Linked DNA regions of Homo sapiens. The main gene of each other region encodes a partner of the protein of the gene in region 4 in a complex. Each region holds a gene or a part of one and is shown on either strand. Other genes may lie near its edges. The genes, in order: TIMM21, CMC1, ACAD9 and COA1.

Region 1 (3,278 bases), on a different chromosome or scaffold from region 4:
TACTCCGTTCTTCACAGCTGCCTTCCAGAATGTGTTCAAAAGAAAGACAAGAAGGAGTGTATGGCTTATAAAGTGAATCTAATACAGTATTTGTTGCATTTAAACAAACTAGACATTTTCTTACGGAAAAATTATGAAATACAGCATATTTTATGTTCTCCCATTGACTCAATCATGACAATATTTCTGCTTTAACACCATCTTTCATGATTAGAAATGTTTGTTATTGGAAATGTTACACCATGTAAATAAAGGAAATAGATTTTAGTATTGTATTCATTTTATATTATAGAACTGCATAATGTCTGCAGAATAAAATTAAAACTAACAAATATGTCATTAGCAGCTGCCCTCCGCATACTTTGGAATCTGACTTGAGATAAGCATGTGAAAATGGTTGAGGGCCATAGGGAACCAGATGGTAAATACATTCTTCAAAATTGTGTGAGTTTTAGGAATCTGTCTCATATTTCGCGCTTCATGAATTAAGGGCCTAGTACATAGCGGGAAAAGTACACACTCCCAAGTTGGGTAGACCTGGGCACCCACCCCACCTTTTCTAGCAGGTGCGTGGTCAAGTGTCCCTGTTGTGTGGGTTGTTAGGATGGCAGTGTGATGAGAGGTACAAGCCTGGACCATAGAAGGCAGCCATGAAGTGCCCTCATCCCCTTTAGAACTTACTTGCACTGATACTTCTGACTGCCAAAAGAACATGGGAGTGAATGAGAGACATTCAAATACGTGTGTGAGGCCCCTTAAAGAAAAAAAAAAAAAAAAAGGAAATTCTATTTTATTTGAAATATTTGCTGGGGATTTGGAAAAAAGTGACCTTCACTTACAAGATCCTGATTCCATATCTATGTAAGTGCTATGTGCATTGGGAGGGGTCTAGAACCATGTTTATCTGCGGTGGCTTCAGTGTGAGGTATCCCCTCTGATGTGTTTGTTCCTTCTCCCCGAGAACTGTCTGTAGAGGAATTTCTGATGTGTTCTTGAAATTTTGGGATATTCAGGATAGAGAGACCTCCAGGCAATCTATCTCCCCTTTTTACTTTATCTCCCTGCTTAATTTAGTTAGTTTCTTGGTTTGACTGCTTGTTTTAGATGTTTTTAATTATAAAAATTTCCAACATTTAAGGAGTATAGAAAATATAACAGACACTCGTCTCCCTGACGTAACACACTTTGACTGAATGAGGCCTTAACTTAGGCTTTCTCTCCTAATCGTTTTTTCCTTTGCTATAGAATGTTCAGTTTCAGGATTCACTGAAATGTCAACATTTAACAGGCTGAGAAGTTCCACTTGCTATCCTAAACTCAAAAAAGCAGCCCTGCTCTTCAAACAACCTGCTCAAACTGTAGCTTGCTGAAGAAGCCCGGCATCTGAGCTCAGGTGGGGATTTAGCCACCCTCCATGGCCCTGTCATTTGACTTAAGACTGTTTGCTTTTTCTGTATTCATTTTTATGCACCTGCCATTTTACAATATGCTCATGCCCCTTTAAGATCTGAGCTTTTGGCCAGGCGAGGTGGCTCATGCCTATAATCCCAGCACTTTGGGAGGCTGAGGCAGGTCAATCACTGGAGGTCAGGAGTTCAAGACCAGCCTGGCCAACATGGTGAAACCCTATCTACTAAAAATTCAAAAAAAAAAAAATTAACCAGGCACGTTGACACACTCCTGTAATCTCATCTACTCAGGAGACAGGAGAAGCGCTTGAACCCAGGAGGCAGAGGTTGCAGTGAGCCAAGATCATGTCACTGCACTCCAGCATGAGTGACGGAGTGTGACTTCGTCTCAAAAAAAAAAAACAAAAAACAGATCTGAGCTTTTATAATTAGAAATAAAACTAAATTACTTTTTCAAAAGGAAAAACTCTGTACCAATAAGAGATTCTTCTGTATAGCCACAGGAAAATGTGATGTGTAACTCTCTAGATCTCTGTTTTCATTCCCTCTGATGTACCCTACTAAATGTTAAAATTTCTGTGTTTTAAGACCCTCTTTAATCCACTTTGATTGTGGTGTCTCTGTCCATGGGCTTACTCCCACTTTTTCTCTGAATTCTAGGGCACTTATCTGACTCTGCCTGGTATCCCCTTCCGTCATATTTGTGAATTTGCAAATGCTCTGGTCATTTTCCTCCAAGGCCTCTGTCATTCCTCCACACCTGATCAGTGAACTCTTTTCACAACTAACTCTAGAGCAGACTCTCCTGTCACTGTTTGCTCTTCCTCCTTAATGAAGAAATTATATGCAAGGCAAGAGTTTATCAGAAGTTCTGCTTTTAGCCCCGTGAGATTTCCAGCCTAACTACCCTGCAAGCTCCCTTCATAACTATTGTTGATCAATGCTAGTAATACTTTATCCATTTATTTCCATTTGGTAAGCCATTACAATATTACTTCTGTTTCTCTTATTCTCATCCAGAGACAGTTCCCCAATTCCTAATTCATAGATTTCTACTCAGGGTTACACTTACTATTTATTTTATATAGTACCACTCATGTGTTCCATCTGTTAGATTTCATGCAACATATTGATTAAGGGTATGCTATATGTCAGACTAGAGTCGTCTAGTGCCACGGAAAAGCTTGCGGGCGGGGTGTGGAGTGCAGGGGCCAGGTATATCGTGTGACAGTGTTAAGGTTTTGATCCTGTAGGCCCTGAAGAGCATCACAGGAATCTGAGTGGGAATTAAGCTGCTGTATCTGTATTTAGAAGTGGTAGTTGTGTGCAGGATGGCTTGCATTTGGCAGAAGCCAGGTAGAGGTTACCGTAATAGTTGAGATGAGAGAGGATAAAGCTAGAGAGGAGGTAGTACATTTGAGAAATGTGTGAGGCTGGGGGAAGGACAGGACTTTGTGACCAAGTGCATGTGGGAAGTCACGGTGAGGAGTCGAGAATAACTCAGGCCTCTGACCGTTAAAATCCGGAGTCACACGGGGAGGAGTCGAGAATAACTCAGGGCTCTGACCGTTAAAATCCGGAGTCACACGGGGAGGAGTCGAGAATAACTCAGGCCTCTGACTGTGTTAAAATCCGGAGTCACACAGCGGGAGCAGTCGAGAATAACTCAGGCCTCTGATCGACTGTTAAAATCCAGGACAGGATGGGTCATGAGCAGAAAACAGTCAGTTCTACATTGAGCTCAAGGTACATCAGTCAGCCAGGTGAAGGCCTAGAAGCAACAGGTTTCTCAAGTCTGGCGCTCAGGATGCTGTCTGAACTGGACGAGATTAGGAGTGGCCTGCAGAGAGGAAGCAGCTGGAGCCGAGG
Region 2 (4,793 bases), on a different chromosome or scaffold from region 4:
CTTGGACATGGCTCATCCTTGTGTTCCTTCCTAGCTGATTAATATTTTTCGGTGCTTTGGAACATAAGTTTTCTAGCACTTTTCCTATGACAGTGGTAGGCTCAAGGTCACCACTCCTTACACAGAACTCATTGCTTTGAGGAGTACAGAGATGAGACTAGAACCACCTTTCTCCTGACCTTTGTATCACCTTTTTTCCAAAGCCAAACACTACACTTCCAGTTCTCCTCCATCCATATCCACCCTCCCAGGAAAAACAATGAACTTATTTTATAATGTCGTTCAATCTGTTTCTTCTAAAATTACATGAAGTCAAGCCTTAGTTACACTTGGCCATCCTTCTTGAGCTAAGGATAAACTTACCTTTCCACACTGGTAGGCTGAGCTGGAGGGAGTGGAGAAACCTGTATTACCAATGTGCTGGCTGTGGTGAAATAATAGCTTTTAAGTAGTCTTTTTCTAGGCCATTGCATTTGTACAAAACTTTTTTTTTTTGGCTGTTTTTTTTTTTTTTTTTACTTTACCTACATTGTGACCACAGTAGCATTAACATTTGCTGTGTTTTACAAGAAACAAGATTTCACAAATTTTATTTAAACTGCTTTATCCATAAAAGCCTTTGATATATAAAAACTTCATTTGGGTCTCACCAATTAAAAATGCAATTATTTCTAAAAAATTTGCTTTTGGACTGCCTGTGGACAAAGAGTTTGAGCAAAGGAATATTATATTTAACTAAAAAATGCTAAAACTTAAGAACTGTCTCAGTCCCCACTGACATGTGAACAGTCTGCAATCCTTCTCCAGCCACAATAAGAGCCAAGAACAGGATCTTTATTTGTATTTTAACTGTATTAGTTTCCAACTTTTAAAAATATGTAGTTCTTCATCTTTTAAAAGCTCTATGACATAGTTGGGACAGGAATTCTATATCCATTCTGCAGACAAGGAAAGAGACATCAGGAGCAGCTAAGAGACAAATATCTAAAGTCACAGTAAATTGCTGATCCAGGATTAAAACTCAGATCATCTGTCATTTATCTCCTAGTCACAGTGCCTCAATGATCACACTAACTTGGAAATCTTAATTTCATCACCAGTTCTAGAATTCAAATTGGTGAAGTGTTATCGAATTTTATGATCACAAATGTAATGAAAACTGACATTTAGTCTGTGTTTTCTTTTTAGCCTGTGCCCCTGTAGGATGCAGTGAAGACCTTGGAAGAGACAGCACAAAACTGCACTTGATGAATTTTACTGCAACATACACAAGACATCCCCCTCTCTTACCAAATGGCAAAGCTCTTTGTCATACCACATCTTCCCCTTTACCAGGAGATGTAAAGGTTTTATCAGAGAAAGCAATCCTCCAATCATGGACAGACAATGAGAGATCCATTCCTAATGATGGTACATGCTTTCAGGAACACAGTTCTTATGGCAGAAATTCTCTGGAAGACAATTCCTGGGTATTTCCAAGTCCTCCTAAATCAAGTGAGACAGCATTTGGGGAAACTAAAACTAAAACTTTGCCTTTACCCAACCTTCCACCACTGCATTACTTGGATCAACATAATCAGAACTGCCTTTATAAGAATTAATTTGGAAGAGATTCACGATTTCACCATGAGGACACTTATCTCTTTCAGTGGTCCTCCCAAGAAATTATTTAACAAACTGAAAGGAGATTTTGATTAAAATTTTGCAGAGGTCTTCAGTATCTATATTTGAACACACTGTACAATAGTACAAAAACCAACATAGTTGGTTTTCTAGTATGAAAGAGCACCCTCTAGCTCCATATTCTAAGAATCTGAAATATGCTACTATACTAATTAATAAGTAAACTTAAGGTGTTTAAAAAACTCTGCCTTCTATATTAATTGTAAAATTTTGCCTCTCAGAAGAATGGAATTGGAGATTGTAGACGTGGTTTTACAAAATGTGAAATGTCTAAATATCTGTTCATAAAAATAAAAGGAAAACATGTTTCTTCAAATTGCATAATGGAACAAATGGCAATGTGAGTAGGTTACATTTCTGTTGTTATAATGCGTAAAGATATTGAAAATATAATGAAATAAAAGCATCTTAGGTTATACCATCTTTATATGCTATTGCGTTTCAATATTTAAGATTTAAAGTGATTTTTTGGTCACAGTGTTTTGTTGATAAAATTTTTTTAGAATTGAAGTTTGAATTCTAAGACTTGAAACAACCTGATCACTGAAGCCAACTTTGTCCCAGCACATTCCTTAAGTCCTAATTGGGAAAAAAAAAAAAAAAAATGAAATAGTTGAAAAACTCTGGGGTGTAAACAAATGATTGTAACCCTACACACTATTCAATAAGTAGTAGAAGGAGCATCACACAGATTTCAGTCTAATCTGCCCTTCTGTGGGCCATAATATAAACATAAATGTGTGTAATGATAAAAAGTCATTTTCTTCAAAGAGACTACAGCTAGCTGCACATTGTGTAGAGCAGCTTCTAAATTGTTAGACTTTGTGTTGAAATGTAATATTCTATTTATTGAGAAAGTGATTTAAAATTATTATTTTTAATCATAGAAATCAGGGTTTGGGCTGTATTGATATTGTCGATCATGAAATGTCCACACTTATTCTAAGTGGCCAATTATTTGGAAATAAAGAAGGAAATAAAGATGGCTTCACATGGAAATTTAAGTTCTTTCAGGGTGGAGATTTACTTGGTTCATACACCTTTTGCCTGAATTAAAGTATTTCATGTAGGAGGACTTTTATCCTTTTTGATAGACAGTTTCATATATCTTGAACTCAATATCTCAGATCTCTTCTACTGTATTACTGAATAGCATACATACATAGACAATGTTCGCCATTCACTAGATATTTTTTTCTATTATCTTACACTTATTCAAGCTTGTCTGTGATTAATGGAATTGGTGTCAGATGCTGGAATTTATTCTGACCAATGAACACAGCTGACTCAGGGGAGTACAATCTCCTGCCAAGTAATAGAACCAAACCCAATATGCATAAAAGAAATACAATACTCCAGGCTTTAGCTGAAGGAAGCAACTACCTGTGTAATAACAAAGCAGCAAAAACTATTTCTCATGTGGCTGCATAGGCTGTATATTATATCTGATCTCTAATGTAGCTTACTGGTTTGCCTTTTTTAAAACCAAAATTGGAAATTTTCCTTTGTAAAGAAAAAAAGTCTTATGAGATAATTGCTTGATTAATGTTTTGAACAATACCAAGAAATTGTTTAATTAAAATAAATATTTTTGTTTGAAATTGAAGTGGATGTGAAATATTGTCCTTGCCTATAGATCTCAAAATCTAGTACTAATTGTTGGTTGTTAATATGATTCATACAATAGACATTTGTTAAACCAGCTTTTGAGTGGAGAAAATTATTTTCCATTTAAACAGTACAGTGATGATAGCTATCAAACAGGTATACTAAAAAGTCAGTGACTGTGACAGTTTAAAGTGTTAGACAAATGATGTATAAGGTTCTTTAGTAAGGAAAGATTAGCCAAAAATTTTTTACCCAGCTAGAAGCTTTTAAATCTACACTTGATATCTCTGTTCTAGGTAAAATTCAAACAACCAAAAAACAGTGGCCCATCTGTAGCTTATGAATCTATTTAAAATTGAATATTTTATGTTGACTTCTTTCATACTAGCTGAAACTTGCTCTAAAGAGCTTCCTTTGGAATCTTTAGATTTCTTTTTATAAGGTTCAATTCAGTACATCCATAAATCGACAGAATGAAGAAAACATAACAAAAAGCCACCTATTCCTTCCTCTTGCTCCCTTATTAGCTAAAGTAAAATTTACATCTGTAAGACTTACTGAGTTGCTGCCAAAATGGAACTGAATTCTTAAAAGCAGGAACATGCCTATGTGAAACATTAGAAAACCAAAATAAATGGGAAAATTCAGACTTGAAGAGCTGAATCATGTGACAACAAAGTACTGATCTTAATTCAGAAAGGCTACTTGGAGAAGGTGTATCTTAAGGGGTAAAAAACCTGTGGGTTACCACATATTAACAGGGAATAATATCAACAGAGGCACCCATAAGCAAGCAAGACACAACTGAGACAGATGTACCAGGTGAAAAAAATCTTCAGTATGGATACACATGGGTATTCTGAAGGCTACAATGAATGGTTTAGTCTTTGACATAAGGAGGATGAACATATTATTTATACTGTGTAATCTAATCTGGCTTCTATGGGGAAAGCAACATGTACATAAGTGAATTTTCTACATGAAGTGGGCTACTTCTGATTTTAATCAAAGCTATAAAATAGATTGTATATTTCACTAGCTTCTTAAAGTAACTCTTCCATTTTCATTTATCTCTAAAAACAGTTAACTTCCTGTGCTCTAGGAAATGCACCAATACCAAAGGTCAATGTGGAAATATGGGCATGTTTGCCCCTATGCTGTGTGGTCTCTAGATTTCTATATTTGCTTTGCTTTTGTCTGCTCTAGTAATCTCCCTCCTTTTGATCTGTGGCCTGGGAAAATGTGGTTTCTTTGTATTTCAAATAAAAGTAAAATAGTTTTTTGAGTGGTTCACTCAAGAGTAAAGTGTGGAACTTGAATTGATTCTTTAGTGTCCTATTTAAATTCTTTCTTAAAAAAAAATCTCTCAGATCTATTGCATGGGATTAGGGAAAGTTAAACCTTGTCTTAGTGGGTAGTAATTTCTATTTGTGATTTTAATGAGGACTGTGAAAATATACGTAAAATTTACTTATCTTGAAACTAGTTACAATGGCTGTGGA
Region 3 (7,769 bases), on a different chromosome or scaffold from region 4:
GAACTGCTGCAGGGATGGGTGGGAAGTTGAGTGGGTGGGATTTGGGTGCCTGTTTTCCCTATCAGCAGTCTCAGTCAGAGCCGCCTGCTTCTGTCTGTTTTACATATTTGGTTTCTGCACTAGATTTCTTTGAATAACAGGTTCCACTTTTTTAGATAATTTACAAACTGTTTATTGCAATTGAACTCTCCTCCCCTAAGGCATTGACCTGATTTGATAACATCAGGATCTTTCTCCCACGCCCCTGCAATCTCTCCTGTGTGGCAGGTTTTCTGTGGTTGTACCTGAAGGCCAATTAGTTGCCAGGCAGTCTTATCTGGCCTGCCCACTGGTACCAGAATGATCTCTAACACAGCCCATTGCACAAGACCCAAGTGTCAGTGAGCCTCTGTGTTCAGTGAAGGAGACTGAGCTTTGATATAAAAGGCTGCAGAGTGATGGAGCCATCAGCTTGTTTTTTTTTTTTTTTCTTGTTTTTTTTTTCCTTGAGACAGTGTCTTACTCTGTTGCCCACCCTGGAGTGCAGTGGTGCAATCACAGCTCACTGCAGCCTCAACCTCCCCAGGCTCAGGGGATCCTCCCACCTCAGCCTCCTGAGTAGCTGGAACTACAGGCGTGTGCAACCACGCCCAGGCTGGTTTTGAACTCCTGGGCTTTAAGCAATCCCCCTGCGTCAGCTTCCCAAAGGACTAGGATTACAGGCAGTAGCCACTGCAACCAGCTAAGCTTGTTTTTTTCTTTTTCTTTTCTTTTTTTTTTATGGAGTCTCACTCTGTCACCTAGGCTGGAGTGCAATGGCGCAATCTCGGCTCACTGCAACCTCCACCTCCCGGGTTCAAGCAATTCTCCTGCCTCAGCCTCCTGAGTAGCTGGGATTACAGGCGCGTGCTACCAAGCCCGTGTAATTTTTGTATTTTTAGTAGAAACGGGGTTTCACCATGTTGGTCAGGCTGGTCTCAAACTCCTGACCTCGTGATCCGCCCGCCTCGGCCTCCCAAAGTGCTGGGATTACAGGCGTGAGCCACCGTGCCTGGCCTCCAACCTTTTTTTTTTTCTATACCACCTTCAGGGTGGTTTTGGAATGGATGGAGGCAGGGATTCCTTTAAGTTGGCTGTCACTTTTAGTTAGGGACTCACCTATAAGCCTGTGGTCCTGGGCCCAGAGAGGAGAAAGCAGTGCGAGCATATTGATAGAGTAGAGAAATCTGTTGGCTGATTAGCTGTACAAGGTCTGAGGAGAAGGTTGAGGTCTCCCCAAGACTTCTCTAGAACACTTGGTGAGAGGCGCCATGAGGACAGGTGATGCTTGGGCTTATAGCTCTGACTCAGGACATCACTGCTCAACAGCCTGAAGCCCACATCCAAAGCTCATGTCATGCTGGCAATTGAAGGGGTAGCAGAGCCCAAAAGTCCAGAGGGGCTCAGCACAGGGAGCAGATGTCTGTGAGCAGGAGAGACAGCGGCTGTAGGGATCGATGAGACTTGGTAAGCATGATGTGCTCTTGTCAGCATAGCATCTTTGAGCTCACACAATAATTGATGTAGAATTGTCCATTTCAGTAAGGAGTTTCCACATCCACTATCTTCCACGATTCTCACAAGGGCCTTGAGTAAATATTACCTGCATGTTATGGGTGAGAAAGGGGTAGTTTAGAGAGCTGAAGGGATTTGGTGAAGGCCACATAATGAGTAAGCCTGAAATCAAGGACCAGACCCCCAGGCTTCTAAATGTTAGTCTTGGGCTCCTTGTTTCATGGGACTATTATCATCCCTTGTACTGAGAAGGAAAACTGATGAAAATCGGGAAGAACCTATTTGAACAGGGGAGGGAGATGGATGTGGGTGGTGGAGCCTGCACATAGTTTCTGTATCTCAGGAACCTTGTGAGGTTTGCTTTCCAGTTCCTTCAGTACGTCATGTCCCGCTGGCCAGGGTGGAGTGGAGCACATGTTTTTCCTTCCCTTTTAACTGATATTTCCGTGATGGGAGTGTGCTAAAAATTAAATTTTTTAGAAAATATTTACTATTTTTAGAAAGAAGTTTTCCCATTTCCAGAAGTTAGCCAAGATGAACTTAATGAAATCAATCAGTTCTTGGGACCCGTGGAAAAATTCTTCACTGAAGAGGGTATGTATGGTTTTCTTTACCATTGCCGATTTCCATTGTAAGGGCTATTTGGTTGATATTTATATTAGAAGTGACATACATAGGAGAAGTCTTCTTGAGGGAGAAATGGTTTCCACTCATAATATTTTGCTTTAGGTTTCATCCCTATTGCCATTTAATTAAAAAACATCCAGTTAAATGCTTCTCATTGTATTTGTGGTTCAGGAGCACTTTAAACATTTCCATACTGTTCCAGGTCAACACTTCCATAAAGCTATAATAAAAATGAATAACTAAAAAAATTAGATGGCAAAAAGCCAAGGCCACACACCATACAAGCCCATGGAGCATGTGTTGGTTGTTGTGGCAGTGTACAGTTGCTCTTAGTGTTTCTAAAGGTTGAGTTTCAATTTCTGTACTTTGGTAATTGTAAACAAAGAGTGATTTGTGGACCAGCCACAGTTTGGCACCTGCATGGTGAGGCAGCATTTGACCTCAGGTCCCTCTCTCAGAGCTGTTGGCCGGTCCTCCAGCCAGGGCCTTGGTGGAGAGTTCAGTGATGGTGGATGGACAGCAGGTCTTCCCTAATAGTAGGATCCTGGAGAGCTTTTGTTTATATGAATTTTATCTATCAATATTTGCCATCTTAGGGGTTATTTTATTTTTATTTTACTTTATTTTTTTGAGAAAGGGCCTAGCTCTGTTGCTCAGACTGGAGTGTGGTGGTACCATCTCATCTCACCACCACCTCCATCTTTCAGGCTCAAACAGTCCCCCAACTTCAGCCTCCTGAGTTGCTGGAACTACAGGTGCGCACCCCCATGCCCAGCTAATTTTTTTGTATTTTTCATAGAGACAGGTTCTCACTATATTGCCCAGGCTGGTCTCTACTCCTAGGCTCAAGTGATCCTCCCACCTTGGCCTCCCAAAGGGCTGGGATTACAGGTGTGAGCCACCATGCCTAGCCCCTCTTAGAAATTAAAACTGAGAAATTTAAAATATACTGTGGGGCTGGGTGCAGTGGCTCACGCCTGTAATCCCAGCACTTTGGGAGGCCAACGGGGACAGATCACCTGAGGTCTGGAGTTCAAGACCAGCGTAGCCAACATGGTGAAACCCTGTCTCTACTAAAAATACAAAAATTGGCCGGGCATGGTGGCGGGTGCCTGTAATCCCGGCTATTCAGGAGGCTGAAGCAGGCGAATTGCTTGAACCCAGGAGGCAGAGATTGTAGTGAGCCAACATTGCACCACTGCACTCCAGCCTGGGTGACAGAGTGTGACTTTGTCTAAAAAAAAAAAATAAAATATACTGTGTTCATTTGTTTAAAAATAATAAATCCATTACATGTTAACATAATATTTTTAATGAAAAATATTTTGTTTTTGTTTTTCCGAGACAGAGTCTCACTCTGTCACCCAGGCTGGAGTGCAGTGGTGCAATCTCGACTCACTGCAACCTCTACCTCCCAGGTTCAAGTGATTCTCCTGCCTCAGCCTCCCAAGTATCTGGGACTGCAGGCATGCACCACCACGCCCGGGTAATTTTTGTATTTTTAGTAGAGATGGGGTTTCACTATGTTGGCCAGGTTGGTCTTGAACTCCTGACCTCATGATCTGCCTTCCTCAGCCTCCCCAAGTGCTGGGATTACAGGCGTGAGCCACCGCGCCAGCTAATGAAAAATATTTTGAAAAATAATCAGGCCAGGCGCGGTGGCTCACACCTGTAATCCCAGCACTTACGGAGACTGAGGTGGGTGGATCACCTGAGGTCGGGAGTTCGATACCAGCCTGACCAACATGGAGAAACCTCATCTCTACTAAAAATACAAAATTAGCTGGGCGTGGTGGTACATGCCTGTAATCCCAGCTACTCAGGAGGCTGAGGCAGGAGAATCGCTGGAACCTGGGAGGCGGAGGTTGCGGTGAGCCGAGATCGCGCCACTGCACTCCAGCATGGGCAATAAGAGTGAAACTCTGTCTCAAAAAGAAAAAAAAAAGAAAAGTAAGTTAAAAAAAAAAAAAGAAAAAAATTGATGGAAAGAGTGACATTGGTTGAAAGTTATGCAAGTCCTTTTAATGTTTGGCTTATTAGAAGACAGCTGGATTCTCATACCTGTTTGTGCACGTAACCTCTGGAAAAGTCCACTGTGCAGTCTTTTTTTTTTTTTAACTGTCTTTTTTTATAATCTTCAGACATGCTTTTTGTTTGTTTGTTTCTGAGACAGTCTTGCTCTTGCTTTGTCACCCAGGCTGGAGTGCAGTGGTACGACCTCAGCTCACTGCAACCTCTGCAGTTGAAGTGATTCTCATGCCTCAGCTTCCTGAGTAGCTGGAATTATAGCACGCACCGCCACGCCTGGCTAATTTTTGTATTTTCAGTAGAGATGGGGTTTCACCATGTTGGCCAGGCTGGTCTTGAACTCCTGACCTCAAATGATCTGCCTGTAATCCAAAGTGCTGGGATTACAGGTGTCAGCCACCGCACCTGTCCTGACACGTGCATTTAAAGCAAGAAACACACACTTCCAGGACATAGGGCTCTGTCAGCAATAACTGTCATCTTTGTATTTGCAGAGATGTAAATATATAAGAAACCGGCTGGGCACGGTGGCTCACACTGGTAATCTTAGCACTGTGGAAGACTGAGGGGGGCAGATTGCTTGAGTCCCAGAGTTTGAGACCAGCCTAGGCAATGGAGCGAAACCCTGTCTCTACTAAAAATTTAAAATATTAGCCGGGCATGGTGGTGCGCGCCCATAGTCCCAGCTACTTGGGAGTCTGAGGTGGGAGAAGGTACCCAAGCCTGGGAAGTCAAGGCTGTAGTCAGCTGTGTTCATGCCATTGAGCTCCAGCCTGGGCGACAGGAGTGAGACCCTGTCTCAAAAAAAAATAAAAATAAAAATAAAAAAATAAATAAATATATATATATATATATATATATGCAAGAAACCACTGCAAACCAAACCCACTCCCTCTCACAGGAACAAAGGTCTCTTGGAATAAATAGCAAATGCTGGAATAAAAACTATGTTCATTCAGCTGCCATGATGTGAATTCAAAAAGGAAGTTAAATCCAAGGGCAAAGCAGAGAAAAGAACATACAAAAATACACCTATTTCATGTACATTCAAAGAGGAGGCTAATCACTGTGGACAAAGGGCCCTCTGGAATGACAGCTGTAGGCAGCCAGCAGTGCCACGGAAATAGAGGCACTGTCATCTGGAGACACAGAAAAATCACATCCTCCCACAACTGGCCTCTATGAAAACCAACCAGGACAGACAACCCTTCCCCAAAAGTAATGGCCAAGAATAAAAGCACAAATATTGCTGGAAATCCAAGTAGCCTGTTTTACTGCTTTGAGTGACTTATATGCAAACCTAAGACTTTTTTCTGAATCCTTGATCAAGATTTATTCATATAAAGGCCGTACATAAATTCTGGGAACATGGTACTTTGGACTATATATTGGACTCTGAGCCAAAACGTTAAATACACTACACTGCGCCCCACTGTACAGTCTTCAGAGAATTAGAATTTAAAAGCAAGTAACATCTTAAGTAGTTTTAGGCCAGGTATGGTGGCTCATGCCTGCAATCCCAGCGCTTTGGGAGGCCGACGTGGGTGGATCACTTGAGGTCAGGAGTTTGAGACCAGCCTGGCCAACATAGTGAAACCCTGTCTCTACTAAAAATATAAAAATTAACCAGGTGTGTTGGTGCCCACCTGTAATCCCAGCTACTGGGGAGGCCGAGGCAGGAGAATCACTGGAACCCGGGAGGTGGAGGTTGTATTGAGCTGGGATGGCGCCACTGCACTTCAGCCTGGGTGACAGAGTGAGACTCCATCTCAAAAAAAAATAAAAACTAGTTTTGATCCTGTGGGACCCCCTAGAAGCAGCTCAGGTCCCCCAGAACCTCTTTGAGAAGTGCCAAATTGTCAGCTGTCATTACATTGCTTGGTTTTTGTTTGTTTCTTATTTCACACCTGGTGATCACAAATTATATGTTGCTAGTTTTAAAAGTTGCTTATTTATATATAAACATAATTTATAATTTAGAAATACTTATTTCTGCTTTTTTTCCTAGTGTTTATCTTCCTATTTGTATCTTTTTTTAGCTCCCATAGTCTCTTGTTCTTTTATTTAAACTTTTCCTATGTGGTTTGTCAGGTTTTTTTTTTTTTCAGGTTTAATTAAGGAATAATTGATTTACAATAAATTGCACACACTGTCATGTGACACATAATGACATTCAAGTCAATGACAGACCATATATACAGTGGTGATCCCATAAGATCATCATACCATATTTCTACTGTATCTTTTCTATGTTTAGCTGTGTTCATATACACAAATACTTACCATTGTGTTACAGTTGCCTACAGTGTTCAGCACAGTAATATGCTGTACAGCTTTTTTGTTTTGTTTTGTTTTCCTTAAAAAAAAAAAAACAAAAAATATTTAACAGTGAGATGGGGTTTCACTGTGTTGCCCAGGCTGGTTTCCAACTCCTGGGCTCAAGTGATCCTCCCGCCTCAGCCTTCCAAAGTGCTGGGATTATAGGCATGAGACACCACGCCCGGCCTACTGTACAGGTTTGCAGCCTAGGAGCAATAAGCCATACCATATAGCCTAGGTGTGTAGTAGGCTCTGCCACCTAGGTTGTGTAAGTCCATTCTGATGTTCATACAGGGAGAGAATCACCTGACGCATGACTGTATTTAGAGAGTACCCCTCAGGAGCCATCAGTGCAACAGAGGAAGTGAACGTACTCATTACCCGTCAAAGTTTCCTTGTGCCTCTTTTATTTCCCCCCTGTTTCCAGGCAACTGCTGATCTGTTTTCTCTCACTATAGATTAGTTCGTATTTTTTGGAATTATATTATGTGTGATTTTGTCTGGCTTCTTTCTGCATAATTTTGAATTTCATCCATGGTGCATGTATTGGTAGTGGCTTCCTTTTTAATGCTGAGTCATATTTCTTTCTATGGATATACCAAGATTTGTTTATCCATTCAAGTATTCATCAACATAGGGTATGTATCCAGATTTTAGCTATCACCAAAAAAGTTGCCATAAACATTCCTTTTTTCCTCTTTTTCTTTTTTTAAGAGACAGGGTCTTTCTTTGTTGCCTGGGCTGGAGTGCAGTGGTGTGATCATAGCTCACTGCAACCCTTGAACTTCTGGGCTCAAGCCATCCTCTGCCTCAGCCTCCCGCATAGCTAAGACTACAGGCACACGCTACCATGCCCAGCTAATAATTCTTAAAGTTTTTTGTAGAAATGGGTTCTCACTATGTTATTCAGGCTGGTCTCAGACTCCTGGGCTCAGGTGATCTTCCTACCTCAGCCTCTTAAAGTGTTGGGATTACAGGTATGAACCACTGCGCCTGGCCTGTATTTCCTTTTTTTTTGAGATGCCATCTCGACTCACTGCAACCTCCATCTCCCAGGTTCAAGCGATTCTGCCTCAGCCTCCCGAGTAGCTGAGATTATAGGTGCGTGCCACCACATCTGGCTAATTTTTGGTATTTTGAGTAGAGAAGGGGCTTCACCATGTTGGCCAGGCCAATCTCGAACTCCTGACCTCAGGTGATCTGCCCGACTCGGCCTCCCATAGTGCTCGGATTACAGGTGAGAGCCACCTCGCCCAGCCTGG
Region 4 (7,769 bases):
GATGCCCTGCAGCAAGGTTGACCACTTCCTGAGTGTTACTTCCTCTCTTGGTGCATATGTCTGGTTGCACTAACCAGGCTGCTGCTAGCCCAAAGGCACCTTTGTGCAAATTAGAAAAAGACAACCATCCCCATCCCTTCTTCAAGATACTTTATAGTACTTCCAACTGTTGGCAAACTGTCTTAATAAAGATACAAATCTTTGATTTCTCTAATGTGCATGGTGCCCTACAAGGGTTGTGCAGTGCATAGCCGTGCAGTTGCATGTGATAGATCTATGTTATAATTATTTGTTTAATTGTCTGTATTCCCCTCAGGACCAAGGAAAATTCCTTATATCTTGATACTGTTTTTATATTCTTACTGTCTGACCAGATCAGACCCTCAGTAACCGTTTGCTAAACAAAAGAAGGAATGAAGGTACAAATATGTATCCACCTTGTCTGGAAAAATAGCAGGAAAGGCATGCCTGCCAAGGACTTTTACACTGAACAGTAAGAATATATTTTAGCTCAGAGACACTGTTTGTTTTCACATTTCAATATTGCTTTAATTAGATATCTTAAAGCTCGTGTACCACAGTGGTTGAAAGAGCAGATGCTGGAGCCAGACTGCATGAATTTGAATCCCAGTTCTACCACTTATTCACTTATTAGTGCACCTTTGGGCATGTTACTTAACCTTTCTGTGCCTCAGTTTACTCATCTGCAAAATGAGCGTGATGATAATAGTTCCTACTTCAAAGGGTTGTGAGAATTAAATGAATTATATAAAGTGCTTAGAATAGTACAAGACACATAATAGTCAGAGACAGAAGTATTAGGTATTATCAATATTGTTAAAGTCCATGTATAAGTTTACTGTACTATTGTTTCTTTTTAACTCTGAAGTGCTGTTTTCACTCTGTCACGTACAGCTTTTATTGCTAGCATCTTGCTTCTGCAGGTCCAGCCTCCTGTTGATTGGCCCTGTGTTTGTGCTGTGGTCAAAGCACTTGCTGTCTGCGGTTCTCCCTTGTGCACACCGGTTCTTTGGTTGCTGTAACAAAAACTACATAGGACACAGACAGGAAACCCGCAGGCTTTGTTTTTTCTTCCTAATTTGGCAGCAGAAGGGGGAAAAACCAGGGCCTTTCACAGACAAGGCTTGTTTTAGAGTTTAATTTTAACTTCTTGTTCGTGTTCTAAAGCTTGGGTTGGTAATAAATCTTGGCTGTATGAGACTAGAGAGAACTGGGCTTTAAAAATATGATTTTAATGTAAAATCTTTTCTAATTGCAGGACAACTTGCCTTTGATGATTTTCAAGAGAGTTGTGCTATGATGTGGCAAAAGGTAATGGAATGTTCCAGGGCCAAGTTCCCCACTAGAACCTGCCAGGGTATTCTCGAGTTAGACAATAGAAGAAAGTCACTCCCTGAATAGTTATGGGCTTCTCCTGGTCTTTAGGGTTCACTTGTGCTTTAACTTCACAGGAGGGATGGGCATTTTCTGCATTGTTTCCCACTCTGTCTTTCTCTCGTGTCTCATGCTGGCGTTGGAAGCTGTAACACTCTGGGAACCTCTCCATAACCCAGTCTGGCTGCCTCACCCTGTTGAGCTCTCTTCAAATTAAGCAAGATCTGACTAATACATTCTTCAGAGATGCTCTGACCGTTTTCATTATGAGAACTAAATGACTTTTCCCAGATCACATTACTGTAATTAACTTTACACTCATTTTGATACTCTTACATATTATAAGAGTGGATGGATGGTATGCTGTATTTACCGAGCTGGCATCCCTCCATCTGTTCATTCAGCCTGAGTCATAACCAGAGTTTCCTCATCCCAAGGGTGGTGCATTTTTCAAAATATGAAAGGAGCCAGTGACAGCTCCAGCCCATTCGCAGGCTTACAGGACCAGCCATTGCCACAAAGGATAAGCTTCCTGTTTACCAGTTGGCCTGAGACAAAGTGGTTGTGCTTCCTGGCCATGCGGGGCTTGGCACACAGTCTGGGCTGTGTCTGTCAGGATGGTGGGCTGAATGCTCGCTCTGTGCTGGGCTGGCTGGGGGTGGCAGGGCCCCCACAGCATGGGTCCTGGACATGGGCCACTCTCGAGAGGGCACCCTCAGGAGGGCACTCAGTTTGGCTTCAGAACCAACCCTGGCATTTGGAAAGGAAGCAAATGAGGGAGGGCGGTCTGGCCTCCTTTCTGGCTTCCTTAATGCTTCTTTCCTTTAGGGGTCCAAGCCGGGCAAATCCCCTTGGCACAAAACTGGGAATCCTACAATAAATTTGTATCTTTTGTTTTTAAGTATGCAGGAAGCAGGCGGTCAATGCCTCTGGGAGCAAGGATCCTTTTCCACGGTGTGTTCTATGCCGGGGGCTTTGCCATTGTGTATTACCTCATTCAAAGTAAGTATCCTGCTAGCCGCCTGCGGCCTGACCTCCTCCTAGCCTGCTCCTGCTCCTCCATCAGAGGAAATACTTGAGATGCTTTGTTTAGATTAGAGAAAGGAGGAGAGGGTGATTTTAAAGGCTAGTCCACCATTTCGTTGGCTATAGCTTCCTCTGTATCCTGTAATCTCAGTTTTTCCAGGAGCAACGAGTACAAATAAAAGGACCAGGACTAATATGCATAAGAAGCCCAGCAAAGCACGATGGGCTTTCAGTCCAGTGCACACACAGGGGCTCCATCAAGATTCTGAGATTATATAAAGAAGGGACAGAGGGAAGGGGAATACCAGATGGTTCACAGGTGGGGAAAGCTGTGGCTGTGCGTCCAGCATTGTCAGACTTTTTTTGCACTTTCATTCTCTGCTGTTGATTTAATGGAGGAGGGACCATGAGCAAGGAACTCTGGCAGGGGCAGAAAATAAAAGCAGAGACCACGATGGCAAAATCCCGACAGATGCCGCTTCCAGCCCCACTGCACTCAAATTTGAATTTGTAAAGACAGGCCACAATTACTGTCAGCAGCCAGGACATTTAAGGTCATTTTAATGCTACTGGTGGCAAAGCGGCAGCAGTTTTTTCTAGACTGGCTTTTTTTAGGCTCCTTTATCCCCACCCAGCTTGGCTCGTCATCCACTCTGCAACATTTTCACTTCTTCCCAGGATGTGAGTGTCACCAGCAGACAAGCAGACAGGCTCCAGTGTCCTCTCCAGCCTTTCTGCACCATCCTGCAGAGTTGGTGGAGTTGCAGAGTCTGGAGGGGGCCTGAGATGAGCGTTCCCAGGAATGATTCAGACTGAATAATTTGGCCTCCTCTTCCCTCTGCCAAAGGGACAGGGGCAGGACATGAGAGGGATGGGTGCACTTTTGGGTCAGGGTTCAGCTTTCTGGTGTGACAGCCTTTCTCCCTTAGGAGGCTGCTAAGTCGGTGAGACCTGGGCACTGCAGCCGACTGCCTGGGTTGAATGGTTGAATCTCGGCTCCAGCTCTTGACCAGCTATGTGGCCTTATGGGGGAGTCCGTCACCTTTCTGGGCATTAGTTACCTTATTGGTGTGATGTGTGGTAATGTTAGTGCTTGTGTATGAGGTGAGAATTGAATCTCACAACACAAGAGCTGTTGAACATTGTGAGATGTGTGGAATATTGAGAACAGTGCCTAGCCATAGAAATCACTCAATAAAGATTAGCTGTCTGGACCCTGCTTCTGTCCCTTCTTTTCCTATCATAGCTGGCACCGTGTTCATGCCTGTGGTATTCCCTGTATCCCTATTCCTGGGAAGCAGCCCAGGAGGGGGATTCCCTTGGCCTCTCCAGGGTCAGGTCACCTTTCCCTTCATTAGTGTGATGGGACCTTCAGAAGAGAAGCACTTTCTGCGGCCAAACTGAACACCCTGCTTGGGAAGCCTGCCTCTGCTCCCTCCTTTGGGCAGCTGATTATTAGAACTTACAGCTTCAGGGAGGTGCTTCCCGGAGTTCCCAGGTAGCCTGTGGGCTCAGAAGGATTCCTGAGACTGAGAGCAGTTTGAGTTGAAATGTTGGCTTAAATCTTGATGAATGAACATTTTCATATCCTGTTTCTAGGCCTGAGGGTTTTGTTGTTAATGTTGTGGTCTTTCTATTTTATGTCTCAACTTAGTGGAACAGGCAGTGTTGAGAAGTCAGGTATCATGGATTCTGGCCTCGGCTTTGCCATGGACCAGCTGTGTCACTTTGAACAAGTCATGGAATCATAGTAGGACTTTAGAGCAAACTTAGAGACTTGAGAGGAAACTTAGAGAAGAGCTGACCAAACCTCTTAGGTGTCAAAATAAGGCAATGAGTGAGGGTAGAAATGAGGTGAAGCAGAAAGGGTCTGCATGAGGTCAAGGCCCAAGGTCATCTGCACATCCCTGCAAAACACTGCCTGCCTGTGCTTTGGTTTTTGAGTCTGTAAAATGGACAATTTAGAGTAGATGGCCTTAATTATTCGTCCATCCACAGATTTCACGTTTCTGTTTCTACCCTGTACGTCAGTTGGATTATTTAATTTTCTGTGTAGTAGATTCTACCTGACCAAGTTCAATAAAGAAAATAAGTGTGTCTTTCGTCCTTAGAGTTTCATTCCAGGGCTTTATATTACAAGTTGGCAGTGGAGCAGCTGCAGAGCCATCCCGAGGCACAGGAAGCTCTGGGCCCTCCTCTCAACATCCATTATCTCAAGCTCATCGACAGGGAAAACTTCGTGGACATTGTTGATGCCAAGGTAATGTGCTTTCCCTGCGAACCGCAGGCTGGTGCCTGCTGAAGGAGAGGAGAGTCTACTGTCTCCTGGAAAGTCCTGGAGTTAAGGATTTGGGATGGGAAAATCCACTAAGTAAAGCTAGGTTTGGCACCTTTAAAAAAAGTTTTTCTATTATGGATTTTAATGTTTATATAAAATATATTTTATATTATAGATATTTCTGTATACTTTTCTTCCATTCTGGGGAATTGATGTGGCAGGGAATGCAGTGGGTATGCTGATGTCGCCATCTTGAATTGAAGGTAGTAGAGAAATGACCAGTGGTGGTTTGCTACCATGTTGGCTTTGATAGCTCTCAGCACTTTGGGAGGCTGAGGTAAGAGGATTGCTTGAGCCCTGGGGTTTGAAACCAGCCTGGGCAACACAGCAAGACCCTGTCTCTCTCTCTCTCTCTCTCTCTCTCTCTCTCTCTGTCTCTCTGCCTGCCTGCCTGCCTGCCTGCCTGCCTGCCTATCTATCTATCTATCTATCTATCTATCTATCTATCTATCTATCTATCTAATCTATCTATCTATAATTTAGCCAGGCGTGATAGTGCACACCTATAATCCCAGCTACCCAGGAGGCTGAAGCAGGAGGATCGCTTGAACCCAGGAGTTGGAGGCTGCAATGAGTTATGATCATGTCACTGCACTCCATCCTGGGTGACAGAGTGAAATTGTCTGTAAAATTAAAAAAAAAAGAGAAATGCATCTATATCCAGTCAGTGCTCATTCAAATGTACCCAACTCTTTAAACTTTGATTTTTAAAGTGTATTTATTTACATTGCTTCCACAGAATACCAACCCATTTTTTTAGCTATAACTTATCTTTTTGTACTTGATCACACTCACTTGCATGTAAAACACATTTGTTCTGTTTAACAAACATATTTTGAGTATATGCTCTGGTTTGAGAAATGATTCTAAGCTATGTGGGGAATAGAGGTGCAGAAGGCTTTTGGGGGTTTACAGTTGAAAATTCCTGAGTAAGACAGGGTGAGGGAAACCCTGTCACTATTGTGCAGGCCTAGGGGAAGTGGCTCGAGGCCTGGGAGATGGCTGTGAGGACTTTGAAAGGTGGAGAGGAACACCCGGCTGAGGAGCAGCATGCCTGGGAAAGTTCATCACTGTGTCGCCTGTCAGTGTGATACGGCAGTGGAGGCACAGGTGGGCGAGGTGGGTGTGGGCAGGTAGGAGGGGCTGCGGCCACCAGGGGCCACAGTGTCATCTTGGAAGGTGTGTGCTTGACTCTGGCAGCAGAAGCCCGTAAAGTATTTGGAGGATGAGTGAGGTGATCCGACCTACATTATTTTTTGTTATTTTTAGTATGTTCTTAATGGACCCAGCTCTAATGAGACTTTTTTCTAACTACAAAAGCAATTCATGCTCTGGTATTCTGATTAAAATATTCGGTTTTAAAAGAAGGTGGATTTGTGTAGATTGGTAATGCCCAGGGACTGGCTACGGGGAGCCATCTTTAGGAGAGAGATGTGGCCACACTGGTGTGCAGTGGTGAGAGCATGAACCAGAGGTGTGGCCTGGAGAAGCAAAAGACGGATGTGAAGCCATCGTGGCATCCAAGTGACAGAACTTGGTAACAGTCATGTATCAGGAGCGGGTGGGTCAGAGGTGATGGTCCAGTGTCCAGCATGGACGTGAGTGGAAGGACGGCAGCGACACTGCGTGAGAGAGGACATCCTGGAGGAGGAGCACAGGGAAGGGCTGGGCATGTGTGGAGTGCTCACTCTGTGCCAGGCCACCGGATTGCTCCCATGGTGTGGCGGAGCCTGTCTGTTGCTTCCTTGCCTTTGGTCACTTGGCTAGACCCCAGCAATCCTGAGAACTTGGAAAAGCCACTGGGTAGGTCTGGCTGTTGCGTTTCTCTCAGCACAGAGCCCAGCTGTAGCACTGAGGAATTGTGTGCCAAAGGCGCCTTTGCTGGGGCTGGTTGATGCAGCATCCATGATCTGGTGCTCCAGGAACCCCAGTGAGAGTAGGGTAAGGCCATGGTGGTTTTGGTGGGAGCTTTGTCCTGTCCAGCTTTCACTTTGGCCCCAGTGGTGCTGAGAGGGCGCCTTCCTGGGCTTCCCCACATCCCTGGGGCCTTGGCCATGCTGTGACTATGTTGGTTGTGGTGCTAGGTTCTGGCTTCTACTGCGGCCAAATGCTGTGACTCTGCAGTGACAGGAGTTCAGAGTCTGCTGCATCATGGCCACCTGGAGCCTCAGTGCACGCCTTCCAATTTGTGGACTATTTTTGACATTCTGTCAGGGTCCTTTCTTTATAATCAGCGGTTTGTGAGGATGCCTGTATACAGCATATGCCCTCTTATCCCAAATTCCTTTATTTGCAATTTTTACAGTTTTTCCAGAGGTGAGATGTTTCAGTTGTTCATGAAGTAATTGTCATACATTGGGATTTTTTCCCAAGTATGTGTGTGAGATAGTCACCAGTGACCAACACTTTGCTTTACCAGAACTCCTGCTTTAATCTTTGGCAAGGTCTGGCTGGTGAAGGAACCAACCTGTAAAGTGTCACATCTACCCATGGAAGCACAGCTGCCCACAGTTCAGACATTGGCCCCTCAGAGTTTGCTCTTCTTCAGAATCCTTCTTGCTTCTGCCCATTTCTTTCTCCTTCCTTTTTAAATTTTTTTTTAAAGCATCCAGAGATGCTCAGTGTATACTCTGTTGCTTAATTCTATAATTTCCAGAGAAAAGCTGTAGCTTGACTCAAACAGTGGGACCCTGAAAATTTGTTCTTTTTTAAAATTTTTTCTTGAGATGGAACCTTGCTCTGTTACCCAGGCTGGAGTACAGTGGTGTGATCTTGGCACACTGCAGCCTCCACCTCCCAGGTTCAAGCGATTCTCCTGCCTCACTCTCCTGAGTAGCTGGGACTATAGGTGTGCGCCACCATGCCCGGCTAAGTGTTTGTATTTCTAGTAGAGATGGGGTTTTGCCATATTGCCCAGCTGATCTCGAACTCCTGGCCTCAAGTGATCCACCTGCCTCAGCCTCCCAAAGTGCTGGGATTACAGGCGGAAGCCACCATACCCGGCCAAAGA

Evidence for each region.
Region 1: COA1 (region 4) and TIMM21 share a complex: the UniProt entries of both Homo sapiens proteins name them as parts of the MITRAC (mitochondrial translation regulation assembly intermediate of cytochrome c oxidase complex) complex.
Region 2: COA1 (region 4) and CMC1 share a complex: the UniProt entries of both Homo sapiens proteins name them as parts of the MITRAC (mitochondrial translation regulation assembly intermediate of cytochrome c oxidase complex) complex.
Region 3: COA1 (region 4) and ACAD9 share a complex: the UniProt entries of both Homo sapiens proteins name them as parts of the mitochondrial complex.

What each region holds. Positions count from the first base shown.
Region 1 is NC_000018.10:74,158,520-74,161,797, forward strand, and holds the end of TIMM21 (mitochondrial import inner membrane translocase subunit Tim21 precursor), read left to right. Parts: 3' UTR 1-2,012; downstream 2,013-3,278. UniProt on the Homo sapiens protein: Participates in the translocation of transit peptide-containing proteins across the mitochondrial inner membrane.
Region 2 is NC_000003.12:28,320,850-28,325,642, reverse strand, and holds the end of CMC1 (COX assembly mitochondrial protein homolog), read right to left. Parts: 3' UTR 1,602-4,793; coding exon of another isoform or gene 1,189-1,601; 3' UTR 501-1,188; downstream 1-500. Other genes in the region: AZI2 (5-azacytidine-induced protein 2), read left to right, coding at 1,189-1,601. UniProt on the Homo sapiens protein: Component of the MITRAC (mitochondrial translation regulation assembly intermediate of cytochrome c oxidase complex) complex, that regulates cytochrome c oxidase assembly.
Region 3 is NC_000003.12:128,882,620-128,890,388, forward strand, and holds part of ACAD9 (complex I assembly factor ACAD9, mitochondrial), read left to right. Parts: intron 1-2,033; coding exon 2,034-2,127; intron 2,128-7,769. UniProt on the Homo sapiens protein: As part of the MCIA complex, primarily participates in the assembly of the mitochondrial complex I and therefore plays a role in oxidative phosphorylation.
Region 4 is NC_000007.14:43,642,163-43,649,931, reverse strand, and holds part of COA1 (cytochrome c oxidase assembly factor 1 homolog), read left to right. Parts: exon of another isoform or gene 1-493; intron 494-1,279; 5' UTR 1,280-1,317; coding exon 1,318-1,332; intron 1,333-2,297; coding exon 2,298-2,397; coding exon of another isoform or gene 2,398-2,474; exon of another isoform or gene 2,475-3,460; intron 3,461-4,532; coding exon 4,533-4,681; exon of another isoform or gene 4,682-4,686; intron 4,687-7,769. UniProt on the Homo sapiens protein: Component of the MITRAC (mitochondrial translation regulation assembly intermediate of cytochrome c oxidase complex) complex, that regulates cytochrome c oxidase assembly.